Linked DNA regions of Homo sapiens. The protein of the gene in region 1 purifies or fractionates together with the protein of each later gene. This does not show direct contact. Each region holds a gene or a part of one and is shown on either strand. Other genes may lie near its edges.

Evidence for each region.
Region 2: the proteins of DFFB (region 1) and PKN2 purify together in Homo sapiens (affinity purification with mass spectrometry; 2 studies listed by BioGRID and IntAct, with this or other methods). This does not show direct contact.

The regions. Positions count from the first base shown.
Region 1 is NC_000001.11:3,860,221-3,864,146, forward strand, and holds part of DFFB (DNA fragmentation factor subunit beta), read left to right. Parts: intron 1-199; exon of another isoform or gene 200-286; intron 287-3,926. UniProt on the Homo sapiens protein: Nuclease that induces DNA fragmentation and chromatin condensation during apoptosis. Degrades naked DNA and induces apoptotic morphology.
Region 2 is NC_000001.11:88,771,062-88,774,987, forward strand, and holds part of PKN2 (serine/threonine-protein kinase N2), read left to right. Parts: intron 1-359; coding exon 360-505; intron 506-601; coding exon 602-818; intron 819-3,926. UniProt on the Homo sapiens protein: PKC-related serine/threonine-protein kinase and Rho/Rac effector protein that participates in specific signal transduction responses in the cell.

The DNA.
Region 1 (3,926 bases):
CCTGGCCAAAATATTTTTGTTTTATTTATATTTTGAAACTTTGTTGCCCAGGCTGGAGTGCAGTGGCACAAACCTTGCTCACTGTAGCCTCGACCTCCGTGTTTCAAGTGATCCCGTTGCCTCAGCCTCCCAAGTATCTGGGACCACAGGCATGCATTACCACGTCTGGCTAATTGTTTTGTATTTTTTGTAGAGATAGGGTTTCGCCATGTTTCCCAGGATAGTCTCACACTCCTGGGCTCAAGCTGTCCTCCTGCCTTGGTCTCCTAAAGTGCTGGGATTACAGGTATGAGCCACTGTGCCTGGCCTAAACCGTTTATTTAGAAATAATGACAGATTCCCAGGAAGTTGCACAGATAGGAAGGTCCAATGTACCTCTACCCTTTCCCTCAAAGGCAACATCAGATACAACCGTGGTACAATATAAAACAGGAACACCGACACTAGTGCAATGTGCATGTTGTTCTGTCATTTCTCCCCATGTAGATTCCTGTGACCAGCATCAGGGTCAAGGTACAGCCCTCTCCCATCCATCACTCAAGGTTCTCCCCTTTATAATCCTGCCTACCCCTGCCCACCAGCAATCCCTAGCCCGTAGCAACTGCTGATATGTTCTCCATGTCTATAATTTTGTCATTTAAAGAATATTAGGGGCCAGGTGCGGTGGCTTACACCTGTAATCCCAGCACTTTGGGAGGCCGAGGTGGGTGGATCACCTGAGATCAGGAGTTCAAGACCAGCCTGGGCAACATGGTGAAACCCCGTCTCTACTAAAAATACAAAAATTAGCTGGGCATGGTGGCGGGCGCTTGTAATCTCGCTACTCAGGAGGCTGAGGCAGGAGAATCGCTTGAGCCCAGCAGGTGGAGGTTGCAGTGAGCTGAGATTGTGCCATTGCACTCTAGCCTGGGTGACAGGCTGAGACTCCATCTCAAAAAAAAAAAAAAAAAGAATATTAGGTAAGTGGAATCATAAAGTATGTGACCTTTTGAGATGAGCCTTTTTCACTCCACATAAGGCTCCCGAGATGCATGTAAGTTGTGTGTATCCATAGTCCGTTCCTTTTCATTGCTGAGTAGCATTCCATGGTTTGGTTTTACCACAGTTTGTTCAACCATTCGCCTGTGGAAAGATATTTTGTTTGTTTCCAGTTTTTGACTATTACAAATGAAGCTGCTCTGGCCAATTATGTACAAGTTTTTCTTTTTTCTTTCTTGTTTTCTTTTGAGACAGGGTCTCACCCTGTCGCCCAGGCTGGAGTGCAGTGGTGCAATCATAGCTCACTCTAGCTTTCACTTCCTGGGCTCAAGCGATCCTCCTACCTCCGCCCCTGAGTAGCTGGGACTACAGGGGTGCACCACCATGCCTGGCTAATTTTTGTATTTTCTGTAGAAACAGGGCTTCATCATGTTGCCCAGGGTGGCCTATAACTCCTAGGCTCAAGCAATCTACCCGCCTTGGCCTCCCAAAGTGTTGGGATTACAGGCGTGAGCCACCGCACCTGGCCATCTTGACAGGTTTTTGCGAGATGTAGGTTTTCATGCCTCTGGGGAGAATGCCCAGGAGTACAGTGCTGCGTTGTGTGGTGTGTGTTTAGTTTCTGAAGACAAGGATGTCCACTCTTGCTGCTTCTGTTTAACATGGTACTGCAGGGTCTAGCCAGGACATTTAGGCAAGAAAAATAAAAAGCATCCAGATTGGAAAGGAAGAAGTGAAGCTATTTCTATTTGCAGATCATATGAACTTGTATGTAGAAAACCCTAAGGAATCCACTAAAAAGTGATTAGAACTAATCATCAAGTTTAGCAAGGTTGAAGGATATAAGATCATATGCAAATATAGAAATACACTTCCAACGAACAATCTGAAAATGAAGCAGAAAATCATCCCATTTACACTGGCATCAAAAAGAATAAAATACTTAGGATAAGTGTAACAAAAAATTGTAATACTTATATTCTGAAAACTGCAAAATGTTGTTGAAAGAAATTAAAGTTTTGAATAAATGGATTAACATCCCATGTTCATGGATTGGAAAACTTAACATTGTTAAGATGGTGGGACTCCCCAAACTGACCTACAAATTCAACACAATCCCTATGAAAATTCCAGCTGGTTTCATTGTAGAAATTGACATGCTGATTCTAATCCACAGTTCATATGGAATTGCAAGAGACCCAGAATAGCCAAAACGACTGTGAAAAAGAAGATAGTAGGAGGACCCACATATTCTGATTTCAAAACTTAGTACAAAGCCACAGTAATCAAGACTGACACTGGTACAAGGACAGATATATAGATCAATGGAATAGAACAGAGCACCCAGAAATCTATGTATCTGTGGTCAGGATGCCAGGACCATTCAACGGAGGGGGAAGAGTAGTATCTTCAACAGATAGTGCTGGGACAACTGTATATTCACATACAAAAGAATGAAGTTGGACTCTTAGCTGGTACCTTATACAAAAAGTACAATAAATGAAAGACCTAAATGTAAAAGTTAAAAATATAAAGCCCTTAGAAGAAAACATAGCGATAAGTCCTCATCGCCTTGGATTTGGCAAAAGATTCTTAGATTTGACACCAAAAACATGAGCAGCAGAAGAAAAAACAGATAAATTGGGCTTCATCAACATTAAGAACTCTGGCCCGGGCACGGTGGCTCAAGCCTGTAATCCCAGCACTTTGGGAGGCCGAGACGGGCAGATCACTTGAGGTCAGGAGTTGAGACAAGCCTGGCCAACATGGTGAAACCCCGTCTCTACTAAAAATACAAAAATTAGCCGGGCGTGGTGGCAGGCGCCTGTAATTCCAGCTACTCAGGAGGCTGAGGCAGGAGAATTGCTTGAACCGGGGAGGTGGAGGCTGCAGTGAACGACAGCCCACAGAATAGGACAAAATAGTTGCCAATCATGTATCTAATACGGGACTTGCATCAGAATATATAAAGAATCCTTATAACTTAATAGTAAAAAGATAACCCAATTAAACATGGGCAAAGGTTCTGAAAAGAAAGAAATGTCTCCAAGGAAGATATTCAAGTGGTCGTAAGCACAGGAAAAGGTGCTTGAGATCATCAGTCGTCAGGGAACTGCAAATCAAAACCACAGTGAGATGCTACTTCACACCCACTAGGATAACAACCAGTGTGGGCGAGGATGCAGAGCGGCTGGAACCCTCAGGCCCCATTGATGGGAAGGGAAAACGGTGCAGCTGCTGTGGAAAATAGTCTGGCAGTTTCTCAACAATTACACAGAATCGCCATGTGACCCAGCAGCTCCACTCCTAGGTATGTACCCAAGAGAAATGAAAACACGTCCACACCAAAACTCGTCCGTGAGCGTTTACAGTAGCTTTATTCATAATAGCCAAAAGGTAGAAACCACCTAAGTCTCCAATGATGAACACTTGGATCAATAGAGTGTGGCACATCCATACAATGGAAGTACTCACCATGAAGAGGAATGAAACACAGCATGGCCGAGCCTTGAAACCATGCCAAGTCAAGAAGCCTGCACATACAGTAGGGTTCCATTCATAGGAAATACCCAGAACGGGGATGTTAGAGAGATGGAAAATAGATTAGTGGTTGTTTAGGGTTGGGGGTAGGGTAGAGGGGAGGGAGGTTGGTAGCTAAAGAGTATGAGGTTTCTTTTTGAGGTGGTGAAAATGTTCTGAAATTGACTGTGGATGTGGCTGCACAACTCTGGGAATATAATAAAACCCATTGTATTGTACACTTTATTTATTTTATTTATTTTTTTTGAGATGAAGTCTTGCTCTCTCCCCAGGCTGGAGTACAGTGGCGCGATCTCGGCTCACTGCAACCTCTGCCTCCTGGGTTCAAGCGATTCTCTTGCCTCAGCCTCCCGAGTAGCTGGGGTTACAGGCATGCACCACTGCGCCCAGCTAATTTTTGTATTTTT
Region 2 (3,926 bases), about 85 Mb from region 1:
TATGGCTTTGTTTTCTTTTGTTTTTTTGTTTTGTTTTATTTATTTTTTAATTCCAGAAGAAATCTTTAAAGCTAGTTGCTAAGAGTAGGAGTAGAAACTTTCGGTCTCCCCATGTTACAATATTTGGATATCTTTCAGCTCTAAAATCTTTTTTTCAGATTTGTAATTTAGATGTGTAATGACAAAAATGAAAGGCTCTGAATTTCAATATCATATCAAATATTTTTATTTCAGTGTTTATTGATGTAAGGACTAAGTTATTGTAATGTTATAGGAATTCATTTCTTTTCATGATTTTAATCACTGCAAATTGGAAAGTCAGATAAATGGTGCAATTAAAATTTTTTTTTCCTTTCTAGCAAAACCTGTGATAAGTCCTCTTGAACTTCGGATGGAAGAATTAAGGCATCATTTTAGGATAGAGTTTGCAGTAGCAGAAGGTGCAAAGAATGTAATGAAATTACTTGGCTCAGGAAAAGTAACAGACAGAAAAGCACTTTCAGAAGTAATTTTAAATAAAAATTTTTATTTGGTTTAATAAATACATTATTCAAAGTATGTGATTATTTAAATGACAACAATTGTCTTTTCCCTGTGCAAGGCTCAAGCAAGATTTAATGAATCAAGTCAGAAGTTGGACCTTTTAAAGTATTCATTAGAGCAAAGATTAAACGAAGTCCCCAAGAATCATCCCAAAAGCAGGATTATTATTGAAGAACTTTCACTTGTTGCTGCATCACCAACACTAAGTCCACGTCAAAGTATGATATCTACGCAAAATCAATATAGTACACTATCCAAACCAGCAGCACTAACAGGTATGTAGTGTATAGCCATTGTTTTTTGTGTGTATTTTTGTCTATAACTGGTTCTGATTTAATAATTGAAAGAAAAACCTGTGCATAGATTTTTAAAATTATGATAAGATACACATAGAATAAAATTTGTTGTATTAACCATTTTAATTTTATTCAATTTGGAAGCATTTGCTATATTCACAATATTGTGTGACCATCACCACTACCTAGTTTCAAAGCATTTTCATCACCCCAAAAGGAAACGCATACCTGTTAAGCAGTCACTCCCCATTCCCCCTTCCTCCCAGCTGCTAGCAACTACTAATTGTCTGTCTCTACAGATTTGTCTATTCTAGATTTGTCATATGATAGAAATTATATAATTTGTGACCTTTTTTGCCTGGCTTCTTTTACTTAGCATATTGTTGTCAAGGTTCATTCATGTTGTAGTATGTATGAGTACTTCACTCACTTTTAATGTCTGAATAGTATTCCACTTGTGGGAATATTCTAAAATTCAAAACTTTTTGTGCACCCAACATGATGCTCAAAGGAAATTCTCATTGGAGCATTTTGGATTTGGGATTTCAGATTTCCAGATTAGGGATGCTTAACCAGTAAGTATAATATAATATAAACATTCCAAAATCTGAGATACTTCTGGTCCCAAGGATTTCAGATAAGGAATACTCAACCTATACTATATTTGATTGACCTATTTGTCAGAGCATATGAGTTCTTTTTACCTTTTGACTGTTGTGAGTAGACTGCTATGAACATTTACGTGCAGGTTTTTGCTTGAACATCTGTTTTCAATTTGGGGGTATATTCCTAGGAATATAATTGCTAGGTCATATGGTAGCTATATCTAAGATTTTGAGGAACTGTCAAACTGTTCTTCTCAGCATTTACATTATTTTATACTTCTAACAGTAATGTATAAAGTGGGTTTCAGTATCTCCAGATCCTCACCAACAGTTAATATTTTTTTTCATTCTTCTTTGATCGTGTTCTAATAGGTCCATTATTGGAAGTATGGTAATATATCTAACTATGTCTGTAGAACTGTCTGTATTTCTCCCTTCAGTTATGTAAATTTTTGTTTCCTATATTGTGGGCTGTTTTGCTAGGTTCATGTATGTTTACAATTTTTATATCTTCTAGACGGATTGACTCCTTTACCTTTACCTTAACTCCTTTATAATGTCCTTCTTTGTCTCCTATAACAATATTTAATTTAAAATCTGTTTTGTCTGATTTTATAACAGCTACCCCTACTTTGTTTTGGTTTTGTCTTTGGGTTCAAATGAGTCTCTTTTAGATTATATATTATTGTATTCTGTTTTATAAGATCCATTCTGTCAGTCTTTTTTTTTTTTAATTCATTTTTATTGAGACAGAGTCTCACTCTCATTGCAGCCTCCCACTCCCAGGTTCAAGCAATTCTTGTGCCTCAGCCTCCCGAGTAGCTGGGATTACAGGCATGTGCTACTGCACCTGGCTAGTTTTTGTATCTTTAGTAGAGACAGGGTTTCACCATGATGGCCATACTGGTGTCAAACTCCTGGCCTCAAGTGATCTGCATGTGCCACTGCACCTGGCTAATTTCTGTATTTTTAGTAGAGACAGGGTTTTACCATGATGGCCACACTGGTTTCAAACTCCTGGCCTCAAGTGATCTGCCTGCCTTGGGCTCCCAGAGTGCTGTGATTACTGGTGTGTGCCTCCACATCTGACCAGTGTTTGCTGTTTATTTAATAGTTTAAGACAGTTATCCAGATGAGGTTGCATGCACCTGTAGTCCCAGCTACTTGGGAGGCAGAGGCAGGAGAATTGCATGAGCCCAGGAGTTTGAGGCTACAGTGAGTCATGATTCCACCACTGCACTCCAGCCTGGGTGACACAGCAAGACTCCGCCTCTAAGAAAGAAAGAAAGAGAGAGAAACATTTAAAGTAATTACAGACAGGATGTAATAATCCTGGTGGTAACTACTGAGAGGTAGGTTAAATTTAATAGGTTTGTAGCACAGTCCCCCCACAAAACTGCCATCACTTCATAAGCAAGCAGCAAATTTAGAGTTTCCAAGGCTACATGCACTCCTGACCAACTGTCTACAGATTCCAGGATTTCTACTAGCATCTCAGCTCAGTAATTTGCAGGAACAAATCATAGAACTCAGGGAAGCACTATACTTAGGATTACGTTTTTATTATAAAGGATACAAATTAGGACCTTCATGGCTCACTGCAGCGAAAAGAAAATAAACATAAAGGGGGAGATCTGAGAGGATCTCAAACACAAACCTTATGTGTCCTTAGGATATATCACCCTCCTAACACATCAATGTCTGTCACCAACCAGGAAGTTCACTTGAGCATTGGGTGTGCAGAATTTTCATTGGGGCTTTGTTAACATAGGTGTGATTGAGTGAATCATTGGCCACATGATTGAATTCAATCTCCAGCCTTGTGCCCCTCCCTAGGTCAGGAGGTCAGACTGATAATGTGGCTCAAAGCCTCAACCTCCTGAAGATATGATCATTCTTTCTGGCATGGCCAGCCCCCATCCTGAAACTGTCTAGAGGCCCACCATGAGTCACCTTACCAGGTGTGGTCTAAGGTATCCACTATGAATAACAAAGGCACGCCTATCACTGGGGGAAATTCCAAAGGTTTAGACTTAGAGGCTGTCTTCCAGAAACCAGGGACAAAAACCAGCCAAATTATATACAACAAAAGGGCTTATTTCTGTCATTTTGCGGGTTTTTTTTTTTATGCAAGTGTTTATCTTTTTTTCTCTGAGTTCTAGTACTACCTTCTTTTGGTTTTGATTGAATTTTTCTACTCTGTTTTTATTTACTTATTTTTGAGACAGGATCTCTCTTTGTTGCCCAGGCTGGAGTACAGTGGTATGATCATAGCTCACTGTAACCTCAAACATCTGGGCTCAAGCAATCCTCCTGCCTCAACCTCCTGAGTAGCTAGGAGTACGGGAACGTGCCACCACACCTAGCTAATTTTTAGTTTTTTGCTAGCAATGGCGTCTCACTGTGTTGCTCAGGCTTGTCTCAAACTCCCGGCCTCAAGTCATCTTCCCACCTCAGACTTCCAAAGTGTTGGGATTATAGG